Homo sapiens: one gene and its partners. The protein of the gene in region 3 purifies or fractionates together with the protein of the main gene of each other region. This does not show direct contact. Each region holds a gene or a part of one and is shown on either strand. Other genes may lie near its edges.

Region 1 (9,941 bases), on a different chromosome or scaffold from region 3:
ACAATTTACTGTTTTCCCCCTTACTCTTTCCTATCACCTTTCTTCTACCTGCATCAGAAAAATCTTTTGAGTTATCTAACTGACAACGATTTGGTAGAGAAAGGTAAATTATTGGCCTGAGATTTATGAGTTTCAGAAAATAGTTTGATTTTATTTCCTACTAGAAAGCCAACCTGTGTACCTTAAGAGTGTGAATGGTATGAAGACAACATTATTACCCTGAAGCACTTAGGCATAATTAACTCTTTGGGCTTTCTGTGTGTTTGTGTGTGACAAATGTGGATGGGCTTTGAAACTTATAAAGATACAATGTTTCTTACACCTCAGATTTTCTAGGAGAACTTTTAAAAATTTGCACAATATCTTATTAATCGTTTGACTCAGGAATTTAAAAACAAAGGAACCTTTTGGTGTGTTTACATATCTGGGTCTTAATTTTAGCACTCTATAAAAAAGATTTCTCATTTTAAAACTTTTACGTAGAGTTTGCTGGATTGAAATTTAAGCATCTAATTCATGTGATCACATTTCTGCTGCCATATTTTGTTGCTGCTTCTGAAAATGCTCTGAAAGTAAACTTAGGACATTAGTGTAATTCCTAAAGGGGGGATATAAGCATGGAAATTATACAAGGTTTAATTCCAAAATTAGCCAAATGGATGACTTTTTTAACATCCAGTAGCAAAAGTATAAAGTGACTTGTTAATCTGAGTTATTTTAATATCCCAAATTGTTTAGGGAATTTTTGTTACAAGGAAGTGCTTAAAATAGCAGAAGTTAATATTTTTGATTTCCTATGTTCCACTGGACTTTCTGCCCTCCACAAAAAGAAATTAGTATCTTTACTGATTCTGTTAATTCTTAAGACATAGCTAAAGAGATAAAGACATAGCTTTTAAGGGGATCTGAGGTATGCATATTCTTGAGACATGGAACTGCATGCCAAAAGAAGAGATTCTAGGGAATAGGATTTAGAATCAGTATCTACCAATGACTGTTCCCTGTTGAAAACTTAGGGCAGCTTTTGTATGTATATGTAGGGAATCAGGAGTACTAGACTACATCATTTCAGTAAAAGCTACCCGGAAATCTTTAAAGGCTAATTTTTATTATGTAAGTATGGAAGTTGTCAGGGAGATGGCCTAATGATTACTTCAGAACTTTTAAAAAATGCTAAAATATTTGAAGTATGTTCTAAAGATCAAAATGAAGTACTGTGTTTTGTATTCAAGCCTCTCAGTTAAATATTTTTTCAGCTTTACATGTAACTCTAGGACGCTTTCATTTCTAAAGAGTAGTTTCACCTGAGATGGTAAAGGGAAGGAGTCTGTGGCTAGTCCAGCACATAAGGTAAGAGAGGATAAGTCTTTACTCTGGCTCTCAGCCAGTTCATTCTCATTGCTTAAATCGTATTTCATGGATCATCTCATTTTTTAATAGTTTTTCTAAGATTAGGGAATATGTGTAAATTGTCAACATCTGTCATGTTTCTAATATCAGAATGACTGAGAGTATTTGGTCTAGATTATACCAGGCATTTAGAATATTTAATTTGGGTATTTATTTACCAACATGGCTAGTTAGGTAGCTTACATTTTTTAACCTGGCAGTTAGCTTTGTATTAATTCTATTGCCAATCATGTGGCTTAAAAAAAATCCAATTTATTTCGTCACCAAATATAGATTTATAATCACGTAGGGAGAATAATTGATTTTAATTGAAGATATGCAATGATGCATCTTTAGTATACTGTGGCCAGTACTTACATTCTTTACACATAAAGTGATGTCATTTACAATTAGTTAATACTATGACACATACAGTATCTCTTTAATTTGTTCACGTTTAACTTTGGTGACATAGAGATACACACCATCCCTAAAAAGTCTAAAGCCAGATATGATTTATATGGGCATATCTGTTACCTGACTTTCAGCCTTCCACATCATAATCCCCTGAATGCCCTCCCTACGTAGGATGATTGTCTCCTTTCTTGCAAACTTTCTAGGAATTGACACATGAGGCTACAAAGATGGTGTTGGCAGACCTAGGTTAATAAGATAATATTGACAGGACCTCATCATTATAATACTTGTGATTTAAGCTTTGAGTTGGGTCTGGATAAGTCCAAAATTTCTTCTGTTGCTTCATCCACACTTCATGAAAATTATTGGTTTCTCTGCTGGAATTTATGTGGGTCATGGATAAGTTGTGCATGGTAATAAATCCTTATGTTATATGGAGGCCCAGTAATTTGGAGGAAATACTAATACCTTTATTTGTTTTGGATCATAACCACTATGCTATACTTTGTTGAGTGACACTAAAATAACACTTATACCTTATTTTGGGTTCCAGGCTCCTGATCATATCAGTAGAGCTTGTGAACAGGCATCTCAGCCATGTTCTCCGTTTTGGTACGGCCGTGTAGTGTTTTTCCATCCATCTTCCCTCTTAGATCTTGTGAATGTGAACCATTGAAGGATTGTTTTTTTTTTCTCAGACCCAATGTCGTCGGAGTTGCTGATTGCATTTATTTTCTTACCAGCATGTATTTTTGTTTACTTTGCAAAGAAATGCTTATTTCTTTCTTTGAGTAATAAGCCATTATCTTGTTGCTAAGTTTATGTGACATCAGAAAGCACAGTTCAGTTTGCATCACTTAATCAGAAATGTGTGGACTTTTAATGATAATAATATGCAAAAAGTCATTAATGTCTAATCATTTATGCCAAAGGAGATTTGGGAAATATGGTCAAATTTGGTGAAGGTTTTGTAACTTCGGACAGGTCTTAAGCATATTTTGTTTTATGTTTATTTTATTCTTCACGCTGTTCTATCATATAGACTTAACTATGTGAAGCAAGAAGTTTTGGGTTTAACTAAATGAACTTCACTTGGCATCTATATGGAAATTAGATGGTAATGTACTTGAATTTCTAAATTAGTAGTTTTTAATATGGTCAATAGTATTAAAGCTTGGAAGCCTAGATTCTTTTCTTTTGACCCCAAGTGGAAAAGAAAGTCTTCCTTGTTTGTTTGCTTTTTTTTTCCTTGTGACTGTGAAAGCTAGAATAAAATTTCTGAAGATCATACCCTCAGAGTATCAGTAGCTCCTGAGTCCACAAAAACATAACTAAACATACATAACTTACAAAATTACCTCCTGGCCGGGCGCGGTGGCTCACACCTGTAATCCTAGCACTTTGGGAGGCCGAGGCGGGCGGATCACAAGGTCAAGAGATCGAGATCATCCTGACTAACATGGTGAAACCTCGTCTCTACTAAAAATACATGAATTAGCCGGGTGTGGTGGCACGCTCCTGTAGTCCCAGCTACTTAGGAGGCTGAGGCAGGAGAATCGCTTGAACCCTGAAGGCAGAGGTTGCAGTGAGCCGAGATCGCACCACTGCACTCCAGCCTGGCAATAGAGCGAGCCTCCGTCTCAAAAAAAAAAAAAAGAAAATTACTTCCTTTGCTATATTCCTTTTCTTTTTATAGGTGACTTCCATGAGCTATCAGTTTTTTAATAAACTCCCTGAGGGAAAATAGGCTTTCTTCCATTCTCATCTCTGGACTTCCTCTGTTGTTTTTTAATAGACATATTTACCACTAGATATTGTGTTTGCTTTTCAGCTCCATAGTCTTTTCTTCATTTATACACGTGACTCGACTCTGTCAGGCGCAGCTCTCATAAAGTAACACCAGGAGGAAATTACTTGTTGATGCTTTTGACTATTTGGGGGTCTTTTGTAATAAATTATTTTCTGTCGTAATTCAAAGCAGTGTAGCTGACAGGGATCATGTGTGCATGACGTGTGTGTATGTTTTTTTCTGGTAAACGTTGATGCACTAGTACATGCAGGGAGTACTTTTTTGGTTTAAACCTGTGGTTATTGTTTATAGCACTTGGTATTTTCAGAAAAGAGAAAAATAATCTTAAAATGTCTGGGATTTTAAAAAATTCATTTTAAGTATGCAGAACTCTATTGGAATACCACCTGGAGGTGCTACCTGTGGCCAAACCCTATCACTGTGCCACGTTAAGTGTCAAGCATTCTGTAGACATTTGTTTGTTTGACTGAAGGAGCTCATATGGAATTAGCACAAGTTGCTACCACCTGTGAATCTTTCTTGTTGGGAGAAATAGTTTGGCCACTTCATCTTTTACCACCAGGCCTTTTCTTGATATTGTTAATAAATTAACACCATTTCCTATTCTGCTCAGCTCTCATGCCGTCTTCCCTGACACTTCCAGCTGCCTCCATGGAAGTGGCGGTGGATAGTTGGAAGCCAGCAACAACCACAAGGATTCTTCAGGCTTGAAGCTATGTTGGGTCATGTTTACTTCTTATGGGAAGTAAGGGGTGCTGAGGACACACTTGGAAGTGAGATGTCCAGTGATGTTCACTCTTGAAATGTAGATGTAGCTCGTGAAAAGTGGTGGCATATTCATTTGTGGCAATGTGTGAGGCTCATCACTGGGGACACTGATTTGCATTTTAAAATAAACTTTATTGTAGGAAAGCTTTGGATTTACAGAACAATTACTGAGGCTGTGCAGAGTTCCTACATGCTCGATACTCAGTTTCTCCTACTAACATCTTATATTAACATGTTTGTCACCACCTTGAGGAGAGACTACCTATACAAATTATTTGGAATTCTGAACAACAGATGTGTTTCTCCCCCTTTATTTATCGAATCAGTTATTTGTATCAATGTGAACTCTTGATATCCACTTTGTACTTTGTCATCTGGTACTGTTTTAAGTATTGCTGCAGTTATTCCCTCTTTGGCTATTGAGGGATCTTTCAGTTGGCTCCTGTGTCCCTTTGACCTCCCCCACCGTGGTGTCTTTCTTTGAGCACCTCCTTGCTTTCTGGCACCGTGTGATGTTCCAGTCTTAGAATCGGCCATTTGTATAAGGATCGCTTTGCATGTTTCACAGCTTGCTTTGTAGGAGTTGTTCTGATCTCGTCGGCCTCATTTATTTAGAAATAATAATAGAATTTTAAAACAAATTTTATTTCCAAGGGCAAGTTGGCAAACTCTTTACCTTCCTTGAAGAGGTTTGTCAAGGAAAAGTAGATGAGAATAGAGGAAAAGAGAGAAGTGGACTATACCAATTTGGATTGGTTGAAAATTCTGGTGTGCAGCCAGCAGGACATACAACTGCTGCGGGCCAGGTTGCTAAGTGGCCCGACCTTTTCTTGTCTGAAGGTTTAAGTGATGCTCACCCACCGTCAGGGGATGAGGTAGTAGTTCTCCCAATATGTAATTCCTAGAGTTTTATGTGGAAGTCACTTTGTGTCCTTAACTTTGTTGGAATTAACAGAGCTGGAATTTAATTGACACGAAGAAAGATCCCTTTTCTTTTAGTTGTGGAGAGAGTTTATTCAGAATTCACATGGGGAACCTGGCAAGGCTGTTGTTAATGTTTTATCTAGTTCGGTGTATGCATAAAGGAATAACAATTTCAAAGTGATTGACTTGATGCCTTTAGGGCACATGAAGAAAATGCATTTAAAGACACAGTCTCCTTTTAGTTGTCATAGATTTTATTTTAACCCAGGCCACCTATTATATTTCATGCACACGTATTCTCATTTAAGTCCTGTTTAGAAAGTGCAGGTGACTTATGGTGTCGGTTAAAAAGTAATTCAGATAAAGCAAGTCTGAAACTGTATTCTCAATAGAGGAAAATGAAGAATCTATGCTTGCATCCAAATTCCAAATATGTGATTTATTATTTTTTTTATTTGCTCTTTCTCAAATAGCTGCATTTTGGGGGGAAAAGCCTGAAACTAAATAGTATTTATTGGAGATGAACATATGTAACAAGATTATTTTCTGTAAGAGTTGATCTGAGTTCTTTCTCTGCTCTATAGATTTATTGTAAAGCACTGAAGTTTACATTCATCAAAAGGTAGACTATGCAGACAGCTATGATTATTATTTTAAGGAATTTTCCTATGATTGTTATTTTTATTTGTTTCTAGGTTAAGAAGGCTTTTTTGCTCTGTAGCCTGGACGTACTTTGAAGCCCCTCCCCACGATGCTGTACGTGCACAATGGTTACTAGGCAATCCGTACATCAGGAGAAGGGACACTCTTCCATAAGGCAAGTTGCCTCAGGGTCATTGGTCATCTGTGTTGTTCCGGGGGAAAGCTCACTTAACTTTTACTTCTCTCTTAAATCAGTTAATGTATACTAAATACACCACTCACTAAAGAAAACCCAGGTTTGTTTTGATATTGTTTCAGTCTTTTTCTTGCATGGTAGGCCTCGTTTAAGTGCCAACATAATCACTTAATTAAAAAGAAAAGCTGTTAAGGATGATTGTGAGCATAGTATGTTTCCATTAATTCCTTCAGACGGTCTTCAGCATTTTCTCTCATAACAGAATAAGCAAAAACCTATTCTGAAAGGATTCTCATTTTAAAATTTCTAAGAAGGGACAATTTTTGTGAAGGAATTGAGAGAAGAAATAAGAGGCAATCTTGTGGCCGGGCGCAGTGGCTCACGCCTGTAATCCTAGCACTTTGGGAGGCCGAGGCTGGTGGATCACGAGGTCAGGAGATCGAGACCATCCTGGCTAACACGGTGAAACCCCGTCTCTACTAAAAATACAAAAAAATTAGCCGGGCGTGGTGGCAGGCGCCTGTAGTCCCAGCTACTTGGGAGGCTGAGGCAGGAGAAAGGTGTGAACCCGGGAGGTGGAGGTTGCAGTGAGCTCAGATCGCGCCACTGCACTCCAACCTGGGTGACAGAGCAAGACTCCGTCTCAAAAAAAAAAAAGAGGCAATCTTGTTTATTCCCATATTTCTCTGAGGAAATAGCTATTTGTAGAAGTAGCTTGATATTTTTAAATTTGAGCACTTAGTTGTGATACTTAGGAGTAGGTAATGACACCATTTTCTATGTATAAAACAACATAGGATATTTGTATTCTTAAGTTGTAATGATTTGACTTAACCTAGGCCTAAGTTTACTTTTGTACAGTCTATAGTAAGTTTTGCAAGATAAACGATTGTTGGTAGCAAGATTATCCTGATATGTCTAACCTACATATGAGAACAGAAATGTCTTTAAAGGGCTTCATCACAGTTTAAAAAATGTTTAGAAACAAAGGGACTACTAGTTAAGAGATGAGTCTAATCTATTCCTTCCAGTTAGCACACCTGGAGTGGCTTTCTGGAAGCTTGTTAGTTTTCTGTATGTAGTTAAAAGCTTAAAAACACACTAAAAATGTTTTTGTATACACACATGTAAGATGCAACTTTTTACCATTTCACTTTGGACTGTTACTGTTTCCATGAAGGAGGTCTCATTTTACTTTCTTATTTTAATTTTTGAGACAGGGTCTTGCTCTGTATCCCAGGCTGGAGTGCAGTGGCACAATCACAGCTCACTGCAGCCTCAACCTCCCAAGCTCAAGTGATCCTCCTGCTTCTACCTGCCGAGTAGCTGGGACTACAGGTGCACACTACCATGCCTGGCTAATTTTTTAATTTTGTATTTTTTTGTAGAGACAGGGTCTCACTGTGTTGTCCAGGTTGGTCTTGAACTCCTGGGCTCAAGTGGTCCCTTTTTCCTTGGCCTCCCAAAGTGCTGGGATTACAAACGTGAGCCACTGTGCCTGGCCAGATATTTCATTGTATGTTGGGTTTTAGTACAGTCCTTTTTTGTGACCTATTAGAGAGTATGAGAATTCACTGTACTACTTTTCCTTTTAGTAATTTGATCATGTGGTTAATCACCAGATTGTTTCGATTCTTTTTTTTTTTTTGAGACAGAATTTCACTCTCTTGCCCAGGCTGGAGTGCAGTGGCGCAATCTCAGCTCAATGAAACCTCCACCTCCCGGGTTCAAGCAATTCTTGTGCCTCAGCCACCCAAATAGCTGGGATTACAGACATGTGCCACCACACCCGGCTAATTTTTGTATTTTTGGTAGAGACAGGGTTTCACTATGTTGGCCAGGCTGGTCTCAAACTCCTGGCCTCAAGTGATCTGCCTGCCTTGGCCTCCCAAAGTGCTAAGACTGTAGGCGTGAGCCACTGTGCTTGGCCTGATTGTTTAGATTCTTAAGGTTTTAAAATATATTGCTACTTTTTTTTTTTTTTTTTTGAGATGGGGTCTTGCCCTGTGGTCCAGGCTGGAGTGCAGTGTTGCTATCATGGCTCACTGCCGCTTTGATCTCCTGGGTTCAGGTCGTCCTCCCACCTCAGCCTCCCAAGTAGCTGGGACTGATCCCCTGGGCTCAGGTGATCCTCCCACCTCAGCCTCCTGAGTTGCTGGGACTATAGGCTTGCACCACCACACCCAGCTAGTAGTATGCACTGTCATTAGTAAGGTTTACTGATGTAGCAAATGGAATGTTCTGTGATATTTAATAGATGCAGTATCAGGAACCAGTTATTCTAAATTTTACCTTTTCTACCTTCTCTTCTTAAAGGCTGATCCCCGTAACCTAATGAATCCTTTGTAAAAAGTGGACTCAGCTAGGATGTTACACCATCATTGTCGAAGGAACCCTGAGCTCCAGGAAGAGTTGCAGATTCAGGCCGCGGTGGCTGCTGGGGATGTCCACACAGTGCGAAAGATGCTAGAACAAGGCTATTCCCCGAATGGCCGAGATGCGAATGGCTGGACTCTGCTTCATTTCTCTGCAGCAAGAGGAAAGGAAAGATGTGTTCGGGTTTTTCTAGAACACGGAGGTGAGTTTTGTAGAAGCAAATCTTTTTCCCCATGGAGAAACATAAATGATGTTTAGTTTAAAATGTGTCTATTTGTAATTTTTAATGCTTCTCTTCTGTTAATACTCAACATATTATTCTCTCTCCTTTGTGAAGATTTGCTATAAGTGTGCCTTTTTGTTTAAAACCAGATTGTTTAAAAGATCAGTTTTATGAATGGATTCTTTTCCCTGAAACTGTAGTGTCTGTACAGCCAGGTTTGCCCAGGTTATTTCAGCTAAGCTACCTTTCTTCAGGTTGTCCAGCTGCTTTTGTTTCAGAAGCAGAAGTGGCTGTGGTATGCCCATAATTAGAGAATTGCACAAGTTTCCCCTGTTGATTATTGCTTAAGCGTATAGACCGAGCACCAGTCCTTTAAACATCATGGCCTAATGATACCCTATCCTTATCTTTTTGTTTCAGATGCTTTCCTTTGTTATTTTAGAGCACTTGTTTTTTCCAGAAACTGTACATAGTTTGTAGGTATACTATAAGAAGATTGGTTATCTGAGATCTAATTTTGTATAAATATGTGCAATTGGAAACTATATTTGACATATTAATGTTTTTGCTTTGAAAAACTGTTCATTCCCATGGTTTTTAAACCAATGATTGTCCAAAACTACTTTCTCCAGTTGAATTTCAGCCTACTTTATTTTCCTAGAGATGGGTTTTTTATATATTTGATCATGTATACCCACATTATCTCTGTAAATTATGGTTGAAAGCAGCTTGGTTGGGGACTCAAATTACATACATGCCATTCTAGGGCTTTAATTGCTCATTAGAAGTGATTTAGTTTCCTTCCTAAGGTGCACTTTGTTACAAAACTAGCCAAACTTCCTTGCATTTTGAGGTGCAGAAAAATGTTGGAAGTTCTAGAATTCTTATGAGGGTCATGTGAATAATGTGAATATATGAATACAAAGGCTAACAGGATGGACTGATTGCAAGGCATGCTAACACTGAGACTAGGAGTAGCCACATGGCCCAGGGGCCCTGAAATGGGAACTATGTGCCTGAAATAGTTGACCATTGTCAGAACCCAGAAATTCTCTGGCCTGTGCCTACTTTGTAGCTTGTCTTCCATGTCATTTCACCTTACAACACAAAAACTTCAGTTCTGAAGTTGATGAAAGGGAAATAGAAGTGGAACGCCAGGAAAAAGATCTGTAAAAAGTAAAAGGTGGGTGTAAAGT
Region 2 (9,941 bases), on a different chromosome or scaffold from region 3:
TGGCTTGTCTCAAAGCCCATGCCCTCACTTGTCTCCCCTCTACGGCTGTCCTTGTCCCTGTCTTCCATAGCAGGGCCTGTTTATTCTTCTCTCTCTCTGACAGGCGAAAACAGAAGAACAGATTGCAGCAGAAGAGGCCTGGAATGAGACGGAGAAGGTGTGGCTGGTCCATAGGGACGGCTTCTCACTGGGTGAGTCTCAGAGGGTCTGGGGGCACATGTCAGGACTCACTGGTCTCAGGGCTGGGCAGCGAATGTGCCTTCTGCATCTGGTGAGGGCTGAGCAGTGAGCAAGGAGAGGCTGGTGATGCAGTGGGGGGGAGGATAGGACCGAGAAGTTCCCAAGTGGAGTAGCAGAGGCTTCCCAGGCCCATCCCAGCTGTCTGTCCCTCCCCTGCAGCCAGTCAACTCAAATCTGAGGAGCTCAACTTGCCTGAGGGGAAGGTGCGTGTGAAGCTGGACCACGATGGGGCCATCCTGGATGTGGATGAGGATGACGTTGAGAAGGTAGGTGGGCAGGGGGCTGGGTGTGGGGGAGGAGGCTCAGGAGTGCACTGGGCAGGGCAGGCCCATCCTCTGGCAGCGGAGATGGGCTCTGCTGCTCTAATACCCACCCGCCTGTCCTCCCACACAGGCTAATGCTCCCTCCTGCGACCGTCTGGAGGATCTGGCCTCACTGGTGTACCTCAATGAGTCCAGCGTCCTGCACACCTTGCGCCAGCGCTATGGCGCTAGCCTGCTGCACACGTATGCTGGCCCCAGCCTGCTGGTTCTTGGCCCCCGTGGGGCCCCTGCTGTGTACTCTGAGAAGGTGCAGCACCCTCAAGGCTACCCTGCAGACTCCTGGTCCCACCCCCTGCCCTGGCTCTCTGCCCTTCCCCTGTGGCACCCCACTGGGCTCCTGTCCACTCTCACAGTTGACCTTGGGAAGAGGAGTCATTTCAAGAGATGGGGGACAGGACCTCCCCACAACCTTTGATGGAGTCCAGGACTTAGTGTCTTCATTTCCATGCATGGCCTTGGCCTTGGAATCCCTGGGCACTACAGGAGGGAAAATCCAGAAAGATGTGGACCTTGGGGGTGAGGGGTGTCTTAATGGGATCAGCTAAGAGCCAACCCCTTCTCTCCCTTGCTCTCCTGCCCAAGGTGATGCACATGTTCAAGGGTTGTCGGCGGGAGGACATGGCACCCCACATCTATGCAGTGGCCCAGACCGCATACAGGGCGATGCTGATGAGCCGTCAGGATCAGTCAATCATCCTCCTGGGCAGTAGTGGCAGTGGCAAGACCACCAGCTGCCAGCATCTGGTGCAGTACCTGGCCACCATCGCGGGCATCAGCGGGAACAAGGTGTTTTCTGGTGAGGCAGGGACAAGGGAGAAAACTGAAAGTGGGGTGAGGGGAGGGGAGTGAGGAGAGAGCACCCTCTTAAGTGCCAGCTCTTTTTCTCCCTGGCCTTTCCATCCCCCCGAAACCCCTCTGTCCACGGGCAGTTCTGGTCTGAATGGCCCCAAGCCTTCATACCTCTGGGGTAGCTCCTAGCTGGGGGATAAGCTGCCCCTGGCTTTCCTGATATCCCCTTGGGCCTGTATTCTGCAGTGGAGAAGTGGCAGGCTCTGTACACCCTCCTGGAAGCCTTTGGGAACAGCCCCACCATCATTAATGGCAATGCCACCCGCTTCTCCCAGATCCTCTCCCTGGACTTTGACCAAGCTGGCCAGGTGGCCTCAGCCTCCATTCAGGTGAGAGTGCTGCCCAGGACTCGGGGTAGTAGGACACAGGCCACATGATTTCATGACCTAGACATCAGGCTCTCTCCCATGCCTCATTTTCCTGGGATTCTACCCTAACAAAATTGACCCAGGCATGGGCAGGGTTGGCCTGCACTATCCAGAGGCATCACCATTCTGCCCTCAGGGCCTCCTGCCCTGGATGGGGCCAGTCCAGCTTTCTGCCCAGTTCCCTTCACTCTCCCAACCCTGGGGTTGTCCTAACTCTACTGCTGGGCCTCAGCCTTACTTCCCACTTTCTGAGATTCATGCTCGGGGCTTCTCTCGGGCCGATTTCACCTAGCAGAGGACTGGCTTGTCAGTAAAGTAAGGCCCAGCCAAGGCTGATTCCCTCCCATGCTAAATACCTCACCACAAGCTCCCATTTCCAGAAGGCAGGCACCTGGGGTCTGGGCAGAGCAGCAGGGCCCCTTTGGGAGCTGGGCCTGTCTTCTTCCACCTCATTCTGGTTTCTGTCCCCCATTTGATCCTAGAGGGATCTGGTATCTGATTGAGCACCTTGGGAATAAGATGCACCTGCTTAATTGAGCCAGATGTGGTAGTGCACGCCTGTGGTCCCAGCTACTTGGGAGGCTGAAATGGGAGGGTCACTTGAACCTGGGAGGTTAAGGCTGCAGCGAGCTGTGATTGCGCCACTGCACTCCAGCCTGGGCAACAGAGCGAGACCCTATCTTAAAAAAAAAAGACTTAAAAAACAAGATGCAGGTTGGGTGCGGTGGCTCACGCCTGTAATCCCAGCACTTCGGGAGGCTGAGGTGGGTGGATCACCTGAGGTCAGGAGCTCAAGAACAGCCTGGCCAACATGGCAAAACCCCATCTCTACTAAAAACACAAAAATCAGCCGGGTATGGTGGTGCATGCCTGTAATCCCAGCTACTCAGGAGGCCAAGGCAGGAGAATTGCTTAAACCCAGGAGGCAGAAGTTGCAGTGAGCCAAGATCGCTCCACTGCACTCCAGCCTGAGTGACAGAGTGAGACTCCATCTCAAATCTTAAAAAAAAAAAAAAAAAAAAATGCAGCTGCTTGTTCCCCAGGGCCTAGAGGACCATGTGTTTGATTCCTTCTTATGTGGGGTGGGAGAAACTTGATCTGGCACTACCCTCCTTACCCACACGTCCATGCTGTGTCACAGACAATGCTTCTGGAGAAGCTGCGTGTGGCTCGGCGCCCAGCCAGTGAAGCCACATTCAACGTCTTCTACTACCTGCTGGCCTGTGGGGATGGCACCCTCAGGTGAGATGGGTCAGAGGGTACACAAGGGTTCTCTGAACTCCAGCCCACTGACTGGGCTCCTGGACCTTGATTGCATCCAGAATTAAAGCCACTTGATCGCATCCTGCACTGTTTGGTCAGTGCATGTCTGCTATGTGCTAGGCTCTGAGCTAGGCCCCAGGGACAGTGAGATGGATGAGACATAGTCCCTGCCTATCAAGAACTCCCTGGTCCTGGGTACTGGGGCCTGGCTGTATTGGAGGGGAACAGCCAGCCCTTCAGTGTTGCCAGGGCCTAGCTAGGATCTCCATTACCCATGAAGCCAGTTCTGGAAAGCAAAGCACACTGAGGTACCAGTGGTTGGGGACTTGCCTACTGTCGCATGACTGGTAGGGGGCTGAACTGGTATTTGAATCCACACTGGGGCCAAAAGCCCATGCCTCTTCCAGTGCCCTCCAGACTAGCCCTTCCTGCCCCACGTTGGCTGCCTCTGCCACGCTCTTCCCTTCAGACATTCAGATTTGCCGCGTGTGTTCACTAAAAAGAGATAAATGATGAGGCTGAGCCAGCATCCCCAGGCCATTGTCCTCTTTAGCCCTTCTTGTAACTGAGGGCATCGTCTCTGCCTTGGCGGGACTCACCCTTCGGGCAGGTTCCCTGCTCCCTTCCGGGGGCCAGGTTGCATCCTCTCACCAGGGCATGTCTGGTGGCTTGTCCTCAGGAGAATGGTACTCTAACCAGGCATCCAGGCCAGTTAGGAAAGCAGTGACAGCTGGCCCGCCAGTTGGGGATGATGGGATGATGGGCAGACAAAACTTGGAGTCTGGAAGCTGAGTCTGTCTGTCTCCACCCTGGGCGGAAATGGCCTTGGCATGGGGACCAAGTGCCGTGCTGATGCCTTATTTGTACCCCTAGGACAGAGCTCCACCTCAACCACTTGGCAGAGAACAATGTGTTTGGGATTGTGCCACTGGCCAAGGTGAGGGGTCTGTGGGGTCTGGGTTGCCAGCCCTGGGCCTTGGGGGTAGGAGAAGCCTCCATGGGTCCTGTGGGAATAGTGGGAGCCCAGCTCCAGCTGCTGGCTCTACCCAAGCCTTGCCCTGAGGGCCCAGCCTCATGGGGGTGTGCTGGGAGGGACAGCCCTTTGAGGTCATCTATCTCCACAGCCTGAGGAAAAGCAGAAGGCAGCTCAGCAGTTTAGTAAGCTGCAGGCGGCCATGAAGGTGCTGGGCATCTCCCCCGATGAACAGAAGGCCTGCTGGTTCATTCTGGCTGCCATCTACCACCTGGGGGCTGCGGGAGCCACCAAAGGTAACCTGCAGTGGGTCCCAGTAGGCTGGCCTGTCCCCTGGGTGACCTCACAGGGACCCTGCCCACTCCCAGTTTATTCTTGCCCAGCACAGACTTAGCCGTTCTGAGACAACCCTCTTTTGCTTGTGCCTCTTCTCAGCCCCCCACTTCAGAGCAGAAGGCCCGGGAAGCATCTTTGGCAGTGACGACCCGAGGCCTGGACTTAGCTGGCTGTGCTGGGGGGCACCATGAGGAAGCATGGAGGGCTGGGGGTTCAGAGGCTGAGGGATGAGAAGGGCACTAAGGCAGGGCAGCCCCGCTGGAATAACTCTCCTTCTTGTTCCCTTCCTGACAGAGGCCCCCGAGGAGCAAGCGGGTAACTGACCTTGGCCCCGCCCTTGGGTATAGGGGCCGCCGTGCCCTGTCTTGGTGCTTGCCCAGGACTTTCTAGGGGCTGGGCTTGTTCTGTTGCTGCAGAGAGGACTGGTCTGGGGAGAAGCCTGGAGGTTGAGAGTGGAAGTGGAGCCTGCAGGCTGTGGGGTGTCTTAGAGTCCCAGGAGTAGCTGCTTCTCCTGCCAGTTTTAGATCTGAATCCTGGAACCTCTCAGGATGCCCACCGTGGGGTGGGGTAGGGTGGGCTTGCTACCTGGGGCCTCCCCAGACCAGTTTTCCCCAGTCCTCTTCCCTTCTCCACTGGTTGGGTAGCTCCGTATCTTCCTCTTGCATGTCAGGGTGGCGGCCACTAGGGGGCAGCAGGCACCGTGGTAACGAATGGGCTGCAGCTTTGGCACTTGCGCTCGGGGACTTGGCCTGGCTTGGAGGAGCTCTGCTCCATCCTTCAAGATGACTTACGTTGGAGGATGGCGATTCGAGCACCTCTTCACCCCCTTTTTCTCCAGTTTAGGGAAAGGGGATGCTGGCGCTGAACAGCACCTTGGGCTTTGGCTTTGGCCCCTTCTGGGATGTGAAGGGCCCCAGGCTGCTCAGCTGGAGTGAGAAAGTCCTGGCAGGTGGTGGGTGTATGGAGGAATGGGTGCCCAGGCGTGAGGCTCCATGCGAGCGACCCCAAGAAGTGGCATCCCTGCCCAGGAGGAGCCAGGCTCTAGGTTAGAGAAGTTTTCTCGAGAATGTGGAGGACAGACAGGCGGGCAGGCGTGTGGCTGTGTGTTGAGGGAAGTTACTTCACTCTGAGGCGGTGACAAGCCTAGCTTTCCTCTAACCTACCCAGCCCCAACTGCAAGCGGAAAGCTCCGGGTGTCAGCACAGCGATCTTCTCAAACAATGTCTGTTAGCGCCTCAGAGCTTCCAGTGTTTTCCGGCGGGGGGGGGGGGGGGGGGGGAGGGTGTGTTTGCGCACACACACATGTGCACAAATGTCTTTGCGGGTCTCTTTCTGTGTGTGTCAGTGTGATTACACCCACAAACATACTCCCTGGAGACTGTGTGTGTGTGCGTTTGTCCCAAGTCTGACTGTGGTTGTGTTTTCTTGCCTACTCATCCTCACAACACCCCCGCCCCACGGTCCCTCCGAGGCGGCGAGCTCTATTGATGACTGTTTGCTAACACACTGTTTTTCTTTGCATGCTGCATGCTGGTCCTTTGCCTTACAGAAGCTGCTGAAGGTAAAACCTTGTTTCTTGTTAGCTTTCCCTAATTGCCGTGATTAGACACATGTTGGCTGAGGCACATATGTCTGTGCGGGCTGTTCCCTTTCCCCTGTGGCTTTTTTGCCTCCCCACTGTTGGGCCATCAGTGGGTGTTTGTGGTCTCCACTGGCAGATGCCAGGGGGCAAGAGGGAGGGTTCTAATGTACTCAGGGAATGTGGAGGCATGAGCGATCTCTCAAGATAAGTCCCCCACAGGCACACGGGGTTCTTGTGCCCATCCCAGGTGGGCTGGTTCATCCTCTGACTCCGCCCTTCCCCTAGTTGGGCATCCCCGGAGCTGAGCCATCTGAAAAGGGATTTTTGCAGCTGGTTTGTTGCCCTCCGGTGGCAGCATGTGGAGTTACCTCCTCCTTTAGGACCTGCTCATTCTCTCCATCCCCACGGGACACAGGAAATGCTGGCCACTGCTGGCTGCCCCTGTTCTGCCTGAAGCCCATCGGGTGTCATCAGGGCTGGCTTTTGCCTCCAGAAGATGCATAGTCATCAGCTGGTCATCAGGTCATCAGCTGGCCTAAGGAAAAAGACCCAGGATGCCAGATCCCTTTTTCCACTCCACAGCTGGGCGCAAGCAGTTTGCCCGCCATGAGTGGGCCCAGAAGGCTGCGTACCTACTGGGCTGCAGCCTGGAGGAGCTGTCCTCAGCCATCTTCAAGCACCAGCACAAGGGTGGCACCCTGCAGCGCTCCACCTCCTTCCGCCAGGGCCCCGAGGAGAGTGGCCTGGGAGATGGGACAGGTACCCTTTGTCCCTTGGCTGGTAGTTGTGAGTGTGAGGCCTCATCTGGGGCTTGCTGCCATCCCTGGGGCGGGAGGGGACTGCTGGAGTGAACAGATGCTCTGTCAGTGGCAGAGGCCCTGCCCCAGGCCCCGTGCTGACTGGGCCCTGGGCAGGTCAGGGGCTTACCCAGATGGGGAGCCCTGGGGAGAAGGAGATAGCGCTGCTCCCCCTGCCCCACAGGCCCGAAACTGAGTGCACTGGAGTGCCTTGAGGGCATGGCGGCCGGCCTCTACAGCGAGCTCTTCACCCTTCTCGTCTCCCTGGTGAATAGGTGAGTGCCAGGCAGGACCCAGGGCTTTTCCTGCTTTGGCAGAGGTGGAGTAGATGCCTTCATGCCTTGTTGGCCGAGGCAGAGCCGGTCTCTTCCAGCAGGGGCTCCCTGTCCCATGGGCTATGAGCAAGGCCAGCATGCCCTCCCCACCAGGGTCCTGGGCAGGGATAGAGGTCTGGCTTGGGCAGGGTGGGGCTTCCTGGTGCCCGGGGCCAACCAGCGAGGCTCTGACCCAGGCTGTCCCTATCCAGGGCTCTCAAGTCCAGCCAGCACTCACTCTGCTCCATGATGATTGTCGACACCCCGGGCTTCCAGAACCCTGAGCAGGGTGGGTCAGCCCGCGGAGCCTCCTTTGAGGAGCTGTGCCACAACTACACCCAAGACCGGCTGCAGAGGCTCTTCCACGAGCGCACCTTCGTGCAGGAGTTGGAAAGATACAAGGAGGTAGCTCTGGGGCCTGGGCCTCATCTAGCCTCAGATTCTGGCCTTGGCACCCACAGCGAGGGCATCTGTGGATGCAGAAGGCATCACCTTACTCTCCATTTCTGTCCTCCTGCGCTCTCTGGAGCAGGAGTCGTTCCTTGCCCCCTTGTCCGTGGCCTCTGGCTTTGGCTACGTTCTTACTTGGTGGAGAGTTTACTCTCCAGGAAGCCTACAGGTGCATTGAGGGCCCCCAGGAGGCTACCCTTGGCCTCTTTTGAGGCACCTCCCAGGCCTGGTGATTGCCACTGTGTGGTTCCTGCTCCAAGTGTGTCTGGGCCTGGCCTTCCCGTCTCCCTTCCCTGATCTGTGAGGGTGCCAGGTGATGATTTAGTGCCTTCTGTAAAAGGGTGTCCCGGATGGGACGAGAACTGGAAATCCTGCCTCATCTGGAAGTGAGTTGAGTGAATTGTCAGGATATTTATTTGGGGCGAGAGAGGATTCAGAAGGAAAATGGCAGTTGTCTTCAAGTGTTTCAAGGATGATTGTGTGAAATTGAGAGTGGGCTTGTTCTGTGTTGCCTAATCAACTCATGTGAGTAATGAGAATGTGACTCTGGCTTCGGATAAAAAGAGGTTCTGAGAATTTTAGCTGTGCAAAAAATACAGTGTGTTTCCTTGGGAGCTGTTTCATTTGGGATGATGGAGGGAGCTCCTGCACGGCACAGAAGGAGGTTGGCCTTGCTGATCTCAGAGCCCCTTCCCAGCCTACTCACAAGGCTGTTCCCCACAATGTGACCCCCATGCTCACTACCGCTCGGCCTTCTTTCCCAGGAGAACATCGAGCTGGCGTTTGACGACTTGGAACCCCCGACGGATGACTCTGTGGCTGCTGTGGACCAGGCCTCCCATCAGTCCCTGGTAGGAGCTCCAGAGAGGGTTTGGGCAAGCCTTTCCTCTCGTTCCCCACCCCTCTCCCCGTGGTGGAGCCCTCCCCATCTGAGCTGCTGCTGGGGGTGCCACTGTGGGCTGAGGGAGGGTCCAGCAGCTATGCCCAGACACCAACTACTCTCTGGTGCTGGGGCTCTGCCCCTCAGCACTCAGGCAGTCTTGGCCAGGAAGGTGGCACTTTCTTCTGCCCTGGTGCCCTGGGGAGCCACAGCCCATGGGGGTCCCAGTCAGGCAGGAAAGCATATCTCCTTTCTCAGCAGCTGAGGCTCGGGCCCCAGCTGGTGACTGGCTGAGCCTCCAGTATGTCTGCTAGGAGCCCTGGTGACCAGTCCCAGCTGGTGAGGGCCTAGACCCCAAGGACATAGTCATTCCCTCCCATTGTCCCCAAGTAGAGGACTGGTGCAACCTAACAGAACAGGGCCAGGAGCCAGCCTCCCGCTCCCAGGGGAAACAGTGCTAAGCTGTCAGACGCCCTCTGGGGGACTGTCATGGATATGAACCCTCACCCCTCAACTTTGGGGGCAGGCTTTGTCACCCTTTGTGCTAGTGTCCTGGGCACCTTGGCACTCGGTGGGGGACTGGCTGGCCTAGCAAACTCTTGGCATTTGGCGATTGTCCGCCATTAGGGAAATTGCATAAGGTGCTTTATTGGAGAACTGGCATTTTTGCGAGGCTGCCGACCTCCCTGCTCTGCTTTGATCCCTACCTCTCCCTCCCTCTTCTCTGCCATGAGGCCCTGCTTGGCTTGCACAAGTGGTGGGGCTGCGAAAGAGTGAGTATCCCCCCGGGGACAGATGTTTAAAGTGCCCAAGCACCGCATCTCCCCAGGGAAGTGAATTTTCTTTTCCTGACACCTGGGCTCCTATGGTGGCCTCACTCAGAACCGTTGTGGTTCCCGGGAGAGGGGGGATGTCAGCATGAGCAGCAGGAGTCAGACAGCATGTGGGAAGAGCTTGGCTCTCCTTTCTCTTCTGTGGTCTCTCCTGACTAATGGACCTTGGCATGGGGCGGCTGCACCCCTGGGGAAGGGGCCCTCGGTGCCAAGCCTGTCTTCCCATCTCATTGCTTCATTGCTCGTTCCTGCTACTCGGTTCCTGCCACTAGAGTTGCCTTGGCCTTTGGCCACATTCTGCTTCCTTCTGGTAATCACGCCAACTCCCTTGGGCATCTGCGGGGAGGAGATGCAGGCAGCTGGGGTCAAAGAGAGGAAAAATGGCCCTTTTCTCACTTCTTTTTTCCTCCAGCCCCTGAAGGCCAGGCCAGAATAGGGTGTGGGGAAGGTTCCATCCTTCCTGCCCAAGAAAGATGCAGGAACTCCACAGAAAAGGCACCTTCAGGCCAGATGTGGCCACAGGCCTAGTTTGTTTGGCCTTCATGGGATATTGGAAATTAGAATTAGATATTTCTACCTTCTCTTGAAGAACCAGAGGGTTTATCAATGCTAGGCCAGTGTTCTTCCAGGAGAGCAGCTAGCTGCAGCTCAGTGGTGGTTTTTCCCTTTGGATAGGGATACCTGCTCTCTAGCTTGCCCCAGCCTCTACCCGTTTTGGCTGCCACGTCCGTTA
Region 3 (10,736 bases):
CACCATTGGCTCACACGGCAGAAACTTTCTCTTTCCCAGCTTCAATCTCCACACCCGCCTCCTCTGCTTCCTGCCCCTTCCTCTTTTTTTTTTTTTTTTTTTTTTTTTTGAGACAGGGTCTCACTCCATTGCCCAGGCTGGAGTGTTCAAGTGATTCTCCTGCCTCAGCCTCCCGAGTAGCTGGAATTACAGGCGCCCACCATCACACCTGGCAAATTTGTGTATTTTTAGTAGAGGTGGGGTCTCGCCATGTTGCCCAGGCTGGTCTGGAACTCCTGACCTCAGGGGATCCTCCCGTCTCAGCCTCCCAAAGTGCTGGGATTACAGACGTGAGCCACCGTGCCCGGCCTGCCTTCCTTCTTTGTTTCCCACACCTTCATCTCTGCATCCTGCCTCTTGAAGTCTTCATCTTCATCAGAGTCACATTCGGGGAACTGGTAGATGTGGATCTCCTCTTCCTTCAACTGATCCCGGATCTCAGGGGAAACAGATATAGAGACAGTGTGAAACGGGCCACAATGACAGACATTTCATGACCAGAGACAGTGAGACACAGAGATACTGGGTGGTCAGAGACAGAGAGAAAGACATGAAAGACAGAGATGGGGAGAGATGGACATACAGGAAGACAAAAACAAAATCTCAGAGACATAGATGGTGAGAAACACAAGATTCTAAGATGGGGCAGACATTAAGAGACCAGGAGAAGCCTGGGCAATATAGCTAGATCCCATCTCTACAACAAATATACACATATATTTTGAAACAAGGTTTCACTCTATCACCCAGGCTGGAGTCCAGTGGCTCCATCTTGGTTCACTGCAGCCTCAACCTCTCAGGCTCAGGTGATCCTCCCATCTCAGCCTCCTGAGTAACTGGGACTACAAGTGCACACCACCACACCTGGCTGGTTTTTGTACTTTTTGTAGAGATGGGGTTTTACCATGTTGCCGTGGCTTGTCTTAAACTCTTCAGCTCAAGCAGTCCACTGACCTCAGCCTCCCAAAGTGCTGGGATTAACAGGTGTCTGCCACCAAGCCCAGCCAAAAAAATATTTTTTAAGTTAGCCAGGCATGGTGGTGTTCATCTATAGTCCCTGCTACTCAAGAGGCTGAGGCAGGAGGATCACTTGCGCCTACAAGTTCGAGGCTGCAGTGAGCTCTGATCTTGCCACTGTACTGCAGCCTGGGCCACAGAGTGAGACTCTATCTAAAAAAAAAAAGAGAGAGAAAGAGAGGCCGAGAGAGATATAAGCAGAAACAGTGGGAAAGGGCTCTGAAGACACGGGGTGGGGGCCAGAGGGAAGTCACTATGTTCTCATGTCTATGCTCCTGCCCTCAAATAGGCCTCAGCCAGGCATCTAGCCCGGGGGCTGCATATGTAGCCTATTTTGAGCCTTCAGAGACATGGCTATGCTGGCGGCTTACCACCCGCCTTCCTCAGAAGCTTCTCCTACAATCTAGCCTGATGCACCATGCTCCAGAAAGGCCACTTCAAGATCAAAGAAGTCTAAGCTGAAATCAGGTTTGGCTTCACATGGGGTCAAAGGTCAGAGGTCATCACTCACACCTTCTGCTTGAGGGCCTGGGTTTCCTGGGGCATCAGAGCATCCGCTTTGCCAATGACTGGGATGATGTTGACTTTCTCGTGTACTGCCCGGAGGAAGGCCACATCTAGGGGCCGGAGCCTGCACCCAGGGATTGGTCATTGCCCAGCCTCAGGGGGCAGAGACCCCCCAGCCCTCCCTAAATGCGCCAGCCCCCAGGATCCCCCCACCAGACCCCCGGCCGAAGGGTGAGATGAAGTAGAGGCAGCAGTGGACTCGGGAGTCCTGGATGTTCTTCCGGTTCAGGCCACTCTCATCCCTAAGGTACTGCTCAAATTGCTCCTCGATGAATTTCACCACCGGAAGCCAGCTGGGTGTGGGGAGAGGATGTGAGGTCAGAGATCAAAGGCCAGAGGGCAGGGGGCAAGGCTAGCCAGGACTGTGGGAGTAGAATGTCATTTCTTTGGCTCCCTCCAAAGACATTAAGGGGAACTGGTGGGGGCCTAGGTGAGTCATCAAGAAGCACAGGGACCCAGTGGCCCTCTGAAACAGACACCACCTTTTGAGATAGGGAGCCAGCACAAACCAGTCCTGTAACTCTCCAGGGAGTCGCCACTGTGAAAGGCTGAGCCTCTGTCCCCTTTCCTCTTCCTCACCAGTCAGAGCAGTCCACTGAGTCCCCAAAGCCAGGTGTGTCCACAAGGGTCAGCTTCACTTTCACACCCCCTTCCTCAATCTCTACGCCCCGGCGCTCAATGGCCAGGGTCTGTGTCAAGCGAGCTGTGGGATGGGGGAGAGGTCAGGGATCCGGGGAGGCTCTGAGGCAGAATTAATTTCCTTTGTCAATATCACAGTTGCCTGCACCCATTTCCCAGGGGAGGAAAGTCTCAGAAAAAAAGCAGTCAACTACCTGAGTCCCCAGATGGAAAAGACTAGGGTGTAACCTGGGGACAGGGGCTACTGCCTCAAGAGGGTGGGGAGGGTCTTACCACTGGCCTCTGGCACCTGGCGATCCTCATAGAGGTTGGTGAGGAAGAGGCTGTTGATGAGGGTGGATTTCCCTAGGCCTGACTCCCCTGTGGACAGAACAGGCCCAACTGGTCAGGGGAGGGGACAGCCAGGGCCTCCTAAGGACATCCCCTCCGCAGTTCCCTCTCCAAAACCCCCAGACCTGCCACCATTAGCGTGAAGTCAAACCCCTTCTTGACAGACTTGCGGTGCAGCTGGTTGGGGAGGGCAGCAAAACCCACGTACTCCTTGTCCTATGGATGGGGGTGGACAATATGAGGCTGCTGGCAATGGCAGGCAGGGTCCCCAGGATCACTTGAGTTCCTGGGCTAGGAAGAGTCAGTGGGGTCTGGGGACCCCAGGCATGGGGGCTGGGGGCCGAGATGCCCAGGTTTCTGGGTGTAAGGACTCACCATGACTCCGCCAGCCATCACTGCACCTGCCGTCTCTCCCCACTTCCTCTGGTGGGGCAGGAAGCTGAGTGCGGCTAACAAGGGGGCGGGCAGAAGAGGCAGCTGAGATGCTCAAACTGGCCCAGTCCCAGAGAGGTGGGGAAGGCCAAGGCCAAGAACACTTGGGGTTGCCACCTCCTGGACCCCTTTGCCCATCACCTGTCTACGTACCTTCAACCCTCCATCCTTCACACATCTGGATTCCAAGTCCCACTGTAGCTCCATCATCGTGGTGAGACATGGGGTATGTGCAGAGAGGAAGGAAGTGGCTCCCTTTGTTAGCAGGGGAGATGAAGGTTTTGATGAGCTGATTAGAAAACAGTTCCCAGGACGGGCAAGGTGGCTCTCGCCTGTAATCTCAGCACTTTGGGAGGCGGAGGAGGGAGGACAGCTTGAGCCAAGGAGTTCCAGACCAGCCTGGGCAACAGAGGGACGTGCCCCTCTACCATCTCTACAAAACATTAAAAAATTAGCCAGGCATGTTGGTACAATCCTGTAGTCCCAGCTACTGGGGAGGCTGAGGTGGGAGGATTGCATGAGCCCAGAAGATCAAGACTGCAGTGAGCTGTGATCACACCACTACACTCCAGCCTGAGCAACACAGCAAAACCCTGTTTCTTTTTCTTTCTTTCTTTCTTTTTTTGAGACGGAGTCTCGCTCTGTTGCCCAGGCTGGAGTGTAGTGGCGCCATCTCGGCTCACTGCAAGCTCCACCTCCCGGGTTCCCGCCATTCTCCTGCCTCAGCCTCCCGAGTAGCTGGGACTACAGGCACCTGCTACCGCGCCTGGCTAATTTTTTTGTGTTTTTAGTAGAGACGAGATTTCACCGTGTTAGCCAGGATGGTTTCGATCTCCTGACCTCGTGATCTGCCCGCCTCGGCCTCCCAAACTGCTGGGATTACGGGCGTGAGCCACCATGCCAGGCCAACGCTGTTTCAAAAAAAGAAAAAGAAAAAAGTGGACCAGAAGCCATGATGGGATTGGGAGTGGGTGAAGCCATACATTTTCCAGCTCAGACAATGGATTCATAAAAGGACTCCAGGTCTTTGGACACCACTGCCCGAGAGATTTTCCTTCAGAATCCTGGCCAAAGAACTCCACTGCTCAAAATCCTTCAGGAACTCCCCAGTAACTCAGAGTCAAGTCTGAATTCTGGCCTGACTGCCAAAGCCTCCCTCAGCTGGCCTCATCACCCCATCTCTCACTCTTCCAAACGTCCTTGGCTCTCTACCCACATTGAGCTTTTCCTTTTTCTGAATCAGTTAAACTCTTCCTCATCCTTCAAGTGTTTCTTTCCAAGGGCTCTGCCTCTATGCAATCTCTCCACCTACCCTAGGCAGGGTCATTGTCCCTCCTTCAGATTCCCAGCACCTGGCTGGCGTGGTGGCTCACACCTGTAATCCCAGCACTTTGGGAGGCCGAGGCGGGTGGATCACTTGAGGCCAGGAGTTCAAGACCAGCCTGGCCAACATGGCGAGACCCTGTCTAGCAAAAATACAAAAATTAGCCAGGCATGGTGGTGCGTACCTATAATTCCAGCTACTTGGGAATCTGAGGCAAGAGAATTGCTTGAGCCCAGGAGGTGGAGGTTGCAGTGAGCCGAGATTGCACCGCTACACTCCATCCTGGGCAACAGAGCAAGACCCTATCTCAAACAAACAAACAAACAAACAAATCTACCTCAGGACCGCTGCGGTGGCTCACACCTGTAATCCCAGCACTTTGGGAGGCTGAGTCGGGCAGATCACGAGGTCAAGAGATTGAGACCATCCTGGCCAACATGGTGAAACCCCATCTCTACTAAAAATACAAAAAATTAGCTGGGCATGGTGGCATTGCCTGTAGTCCCAGCTACTCAGGAGGCTAAAGCAGAATTGCTTGAACCCAGGAGGTGGAGGTTGCAGCGAGCCAAGATCGTGCCACTGCACTCCAGCCTGGTGACAGAGCAAGACTCCGTCTCAAAAAACAAAAAACAAACAAACAAAAATGCTACTTAATACCATCTAGGGACTGTTAAGAATCTGGAAAGGGGGGCTGGGTGCGGTGGCTCATGCCTGTAATTCCAGCATTTTGGGAGGACAGGGCAGTCGGATCACTTGAGGCCAGGAGTTCGAGACCAGCCTGGCCAACATGGTGAAACCCCCGTCTCTACTAAGAATACAAAAATTAGCCAGGCATGGTGGTGCACGCCTGTAATCACAGCTACTAGGGAGGCTGAGGCAGGAGAATTGCTAGAACCTGAGAGGCGTAGGTTGCAGTGAGCCAAGATCCTGCCACTGCACTCCAGCCTGGGCGACAGGGCAAGACTCCGTCTCAAAAAAATAAATAAGTAGGCCAGGCGCGGTGGCTCATGCCTGTAATCCCAGCACTTTGGGAGGCTGAGTCAGGCAGATCACCTGTGGTCAGGAGTTCGAGACCAGCCTGAGCAACATGGAGAAACCCTGACTCTACTAAAAATACAAAATTAGCAGGGCGTGATGGCGCATGCCTGTAATCCCAGCTACACGGGAGCTGAAGCAGGAGAATCACTTGAACCTGGGAGGTGAAGTTTGCGGTGAGCTGAGATTGTGCCATTGCACTCCAATCTGGGCAACAAGAGCAAAACTCTTTCTCAAATAATAATAATAATAATAATAATAATAATAATAATAATAATAATATAAATAAATAAATAAGCAAAGGGCAGGGATCATGTTACCTCTCAGCACTCCACCACCGGCCTTCCTCCTGCATCTCTCACCAGGTTGAGCATCTCTATGGTCTTAGTTAAAATTCTGAAATCAGCCGGGTGTGGTGGTTCACGCCTGTAATCCCAGGACTTGGGGAGGCCAAGGCAGGCAGATCAGAAGGTCAGGAGATCGAGACCATCCTGGCCAACATGGTGAAACCCCGTCTCTACTAAAAATACAAAAATTAGTTGGATGTGGTGGCGCGTGCCTGTAATCCCAGCTACTTGGGAGGCTGAGGCACAAGAATCACTTGAACCCAGGAGGCGCAGGTTGCAGTGAGCCAAGATCACACCACTGCACTCCAGCCTGGCGACAGAGCAAGACTCTGTCTCAAAAAAAAGGAAAAAAAACTTTCTGAACTCCTCCCACTCTCACTCCCCACAAGTGTTTCCAGTGAGTTTCCAATTCCCACCTATCCTTCAGAAAAATTGGTCCCCTTTTCTTCACACTCTCCATGCCATTAACCTGCTTTGGGTTCAGACCCTGATCAACTCTTCTCTGAGTTATTCAACAGCCTTTGACAGAATAACATGTTTAAAGGAAAAAAAAAAATGTTGGGCGTGGTGGTTCACGCCTGTAATCCCAGTGCTTTGGGAGGCTGAGGTGGGAGGATTGCTTGAGGCTAGGAGTTCAAGACCAGTCTGGTCAACATAGCAAGACCCGATCTGTATTAAAAAAATAAATAAAAAAGAGGATAACATGTAGGCCAGGCAGTGGCTCATGTCTGTAATCTCAGCACTTTGGGAGGCCGAGGTGGGAGGATCACTTGAGGCCAGGAGTTTGAGACCAGCCTGAGCAACACAGTGAGATCCTGTCTTTACAAATTAAAAAAAAAAAATTAGCTGGGCATCGTGGTGCACAATTGTTGCCCCAGCTAGTTGGGAGGTTGAGGCAGGAGGATCACTTGAGCCCAGGAATTTGAGGCTGCAATGAGTCATTGTGGTGTCACTACACTTTAGCATGGGTGACAGAGCGAGACCCTGTCTCAAAAAAAATACAAAATTTAGGATGATATATATTTATCTGTTTATTGTACAACCAACACATGTTTTCATAGAAAAATTATAAAATGCAATTGAAATATAAACATTTAAATGTGGGCCGGGAGTGGTGGCTCATGCCTGTAATCCCAGCACTTTGGGAGGCTGAGGCAGGAGGATGGCTTAAGCTCAGGAATTCGAGACCAGCCTGGGGAACATGGTGAAACCCCATGTCTACAAAAAATACAAAAATTAGCTGGGCATGGTGGCATGCACCTGTGGTCCCAGCTACTCAGAAGGCTGAGGTGGGAGGATCGTCCAGTCTGTGTGACAGAGCCAGACCCTACCTCGAAAAAAATATATTTTTTAATGTGATATCACCATTTTTTTTTTCTTGAGATGGAGTTTCGCCCTTGTAGTTTCGCTCTTGTTGTCCAAGCTGGAGTGCAATGGTGTGATCTCGGCTCACTGCAACCTCTGCCTCCCGGGTTCAAGTGATTTTCCTGCCTCAGCCTCCCGAGTAGCTAGGATTACAGGCATGTGCCACCACGCCCAGGTAATTTTGTATTTTTAGTAGAGATGGGGTTTCACCATGTTGGTCAGGCTGGTCTTGAACTTCCGGCATCCCAAAGTGCTGGGATTACAGGTATGAGCCACTGCACCTGGCCTTTTTTTTTTTTTTTTTTTTTGAGACAGAGTCTTGCTCTGTCACTCAGGCCGGAGTGCAGTGGCACGATCTTGGCTCACTGCAAGCTCTGCCTCCAGGGTTCACGCCATTCTCCTGCCTCAGCCTCCCGAATAGCTGGGACTACAGGTGCCCACCACCATGCCTGGCTAATTTTTTTGTATTTTTAGTAGAGACAGGGTTTCACCGTGTTAGCCAGGATGGTCTCGATCTCCTGACCTTGTGATCCGCCCGCCTTGGCCTCCCAAAGTGCTGGGATTACAGGCGTGAGCCACCGCGCCCGGCCTTTTTTTTTTTTTTTTAAAGACAGTGTTTCGGCGGGGCGCCATGGCTCACTCCTGTAATCCCAGCACTTTGGGAGGCCTAGGTGGGCGGTTCACCTGATGTCGGGAGTTCAAGGCCAGCCTGGCCAACATGTTGAAATCCTGTCTCTACTAAAAATACAAAAATTAGCCAGGCATGGTGGCGCATGCCTGTAATCCCAGATATTCGGGAGGCTGAGGCAGGAGAATCACTTGAACCCGGGAGGCAGAGGTTGCAGTGAGTGGAGATCGCACCATCGCACTCCAGCCTGGGGGACAAGAGTGAGACTTCCTCTCCAAAACAAAACAAAACCAAAAAAAGACAGAGTTTTCCTCGTCACCCAGGCTGGAGTACAATGGCGCGATCTCGGCTCACTGCAACCTCTGCCTCCTGGGTTCAAGTGATTCTCCTGCCTCAGCCTCCCGACTAGCTGTGATTACAGATGCCTGCCATCATACCTGACTAATTTTTGTATTTTTAGTAGAGACAGGGTTTCACCATGTTGTCCAGGCTGATCTTGAACTTCTGACCTCAGGTGCTCTGCCCACCTTGGCCTCCCAATCACTATCTTTCTATAACCCAATTTTAGTATTTATCCTTCTCGTACGCCTATATATATGTATACACACTGTTTATATTTATAAAAATAGGGTCACATTATAACTTTGGAAACATGCTTTTGTTGCTTCATGTGTTCTCTACATCTTTTTTTTTTTCTTTTTTGGAGAGGGAGTTTTTCTCTTGTTGCCCAGGCTAGAGTGCAATGGCGCGATCTCGGCTCACCACAACCTCCGCCTCCTGAGTTCAAGCGATTCTCCTACCTCAGCCTCCCAAGTAGCTGGGATTGATTACAGGCATGCACCACCACGCTTGGCTAATTTTTTTTGTATTTTTAGTAGAGATGGGGTTTCTCAGTGTTGGTCAGGCTGGTCTCGAATTCCCAATCTCAGGTGATCCACCCACCTCAGCCTCCCAAAGTGCTAGGATTACAGGTGTGAGCCACCACGCCAGGCCTGTTCTCTACATCTTTCTATGATACATGCACATGTACATTATCTGTTTTTGTTTTAGTTTTTGTGTTTGTTTTAGCTGGGACTACAGGTGTTCACCACCATACCCAGTTAAGCTTTTTGATTTTTAGTAAAGACAAGATCTTGCTATGTTGCCCTGGCTGGTCTTGAACTCCTGAACTCACACAATCCTCCCTTCTTGGTCTCCCAAAGTCCTGGGATTACAGCCACTGCACCCGGCCCAGGAAGTTATATATTTTAAGCATTTGTACATATTAATGCCAGGCCAGGTGCAGTGGCAATAGGGCGAGACCTTGTCTCAAAAAAAACAACCACAGTCCAGGCGCGGTGGCTCACGCCTGTAATCCCAGCACTTTGGGAGATCAACGTGGGTGGATCACCTAAGGTCAGGAGTTCAAGACCAGCCTGGCCAACATGGCGACACCCCATCTCTACTAAAAAAAAAATACAAAAATTAGCCGGGCGTGGTGCCGCACACCAGTAATCTCAGCTACTCAGGAGGCTGAGGCAGGAGAATTGCTTGAACTCAGGATGCAGAGGTTGCAGTGAGCCGAGACTGCGCCACTGCACTCCAGCCTGGGCGACGGAGTAAGACTCTATCTCAAAAGAAAATTAAAAATAAAAATAAATAAAAATAAAAACAAAAACAACAACAAAAAGAAAACAACCCTGCAAAAAAGGCTCTTGTGGCCGGGTGTGGTGGCTCACGCCTGTAATCCCAGCACTTTGGGAAGCTGAGGCAGGCGGATCATGAGATCAGGAGTTCGAGACTAGCCTGGCCAACAAAGTGAAACTCTGTCTCTACTAAAAATACAAAAATTGGCTGGGCACAGTGGCTCATGCCTGTAATTCCAGCACTTTGGGAGGCTGAGGCGGGCGGATCACGAGGTCAGGAGATCGAGATCATCCTGGCTGACACGGTGAAACCCCTCTCTACTAAGAATACAAAAAATTAGCTGGGCGTGGTAGTGGGCCCTGTAGTCCCAGCTACTCGGGAGGCTGAGGCAGGAGAATGGCGTGAACCCGGGAGGTGTAGCTTGCAGTGAGCCGAGATTGTGCTACTGCACTCCAGCCTAGGCAACAGAGCGAGACTCCATCTCAAAAAAAAAAAAAAAATAATAATAATACAAAAATTAGCTGGGCATGGTGGTGCGCGCCTGTAATCCCAGCTACTTGGGAGGCTGAGGCAGAAGAATTGCTTGAACCTGGGAGGCAGAGGTTGTGGTGAGCCGAGATCGTGCCACTGCACTCCAGCCTGGGCAACAGAGTGAGACTCTGTCTCAAAAAAAAAAAAAAAAAGGCTCTTGCTTGGTCATTGTGTTAAATGTAGAGTTTATATGAATTAACAGTGACACCATAGTCCATTTCCATGCTTATTAATTCCAACTAATTATGGCGAATCATTCATATGATATTTGGGGCTTGTTTGCTTTGACAAAGGAAGGCAGTACCTTGAGTTTCATATAGGGCAGTGTGTGGTGGACAGCTCTCTTCCCATTTAGTAATTATTTAGTCATTTGGATTAGTTTTTTTTTTTTTTTTTTTTTTTTTTTTTTTTTTTTTAGAAACAGGGTCTTGTTCTGTTGCCCAGGCTGGAATGTAGTAGTGCGATCATAGGTTATTGCAGTCTTGAACACCTGGGCTCACTTCTGCCTCCCAAGTAGCTGGGACTATAGCTTTGCAACACCATCCCTGGCTAATTCTTTTTTCTTTTTAGAGATGGGGTCACTATGTTGGCCAGGCTGGTCCCAAACTCCTGACCTCAAATGATTCTCCTGCCTTGGCCTCCCAAAGCACTAGGATTCCAGGTGTAAGCCACTATGCCCAGCCCGTATTAGTTCTTCTTCATCTTGCCATCATGTCTTCACAGTTACCTCTTCCCCACCCCTTGCATCCCTTGAGGGACTTCTATATCTTTAGACATTAATTCAAGTTCAGATCTAATAACTATAGGATTTGTCCTCTCAAAGTCAGAGTTAGGCAGCTCTGCAAATGAATATGGC

What was found.
Region 1: the proteins of SEPTIN1 (region 3) and ASB7 purify together in Homo sapiens (affinity purification with mass spectrometry; 3 studies listed by BioGRID and IntAct, with this or other methods). This does not show direct contact.
Region 2: the proteins of SEPTIN1 (region 3) and MYO18A purify together in Homo sapiens (affinity purification with mass spectrometry; 3 studies listed by BioGRID and IntAct, with this or other methods). This does not show direct contact.

What each region holds. Positions count from the first base shown.
Region 1 is NC_000015.10:100,603,704-100,613,644, forward strand, and holds part of ASB7 (ankyrin repeat and SOCS box protein 7), read left to right. Parts: intron 1-6,003; 5' UTR 6,004-6,125; intron 6,126-8,462; 5' UTR 8,463-8,513; coding exon 8,514-8,724; intron 8,725-9,941. UniProt on the Homo sapiens protein: Probable substrate-recognition component of a SCF-like ECS (Elongin-Cullin-SOCS-box protein) E3 ubiquitin-protein ligase complex which mediates the ubiquitination and subsequent proteasomal degradation of target proteins.
Region 2 is NC_000017.11:29,112,416-29,122,356, reverse strand, and holds part of MYO18A (unconventional myosin-XVIIIa), read left to right. Parts: intron 1-103; coding exon 104-191; intron 192-399; coding exon 400-506; intron 507-633; coding exon 634-810; intron 811-1,145; coding exon 1,146-1,359; intron 1,360-1,598; coding exon 1,599-1,741; intron 1,742-2,921; coding exon 2,922-3,022; intron 3,023-3,916; coding exon 3,917-3,980; intron 3,981-4,167; coding exon 4,168-4,312; intron 4,313-4,646; coding exon of another isoform or gene 4,647-4,667; intron 4,668-5,901; coding exon 5,902-5,913; intron 5,914-6,516; coding exon 6,517-6,693; intron 6,694-6,915; coding exon 6,916-7,006; intron 7,007-7,257; coding exon 7,258-7,450; intron 7,451-8,259; coding exon 8,260-8,346; intron 8,347-9,941.
Region 3 is NC_000016.10:30,379,558-30,390,293, forward strand, and holds the start of SEPTIN1 (septin-1), read right to left. Parts: upstream 3,005-10,736; 5' UTR 2,986-3,004; coding exon 2,968-2,985; intron 2,809-2,967; coding exon 2,718-2,808; intron 2,623-2,717; coding exon 2,536-2,622; intron 2,327-2,535; coding exon 2,203-2,326; intron 1,917-2,202; coding exon 1,782-1,916; intron 1,688-1,781; coding exon 1,570-1,687; intron 477-1,569; coding exon 375-476; intron 1-374. UniProt on the Homo sapiens protein: Filament-forming cytoskeletal GTPase. May play a role in cytokinesis.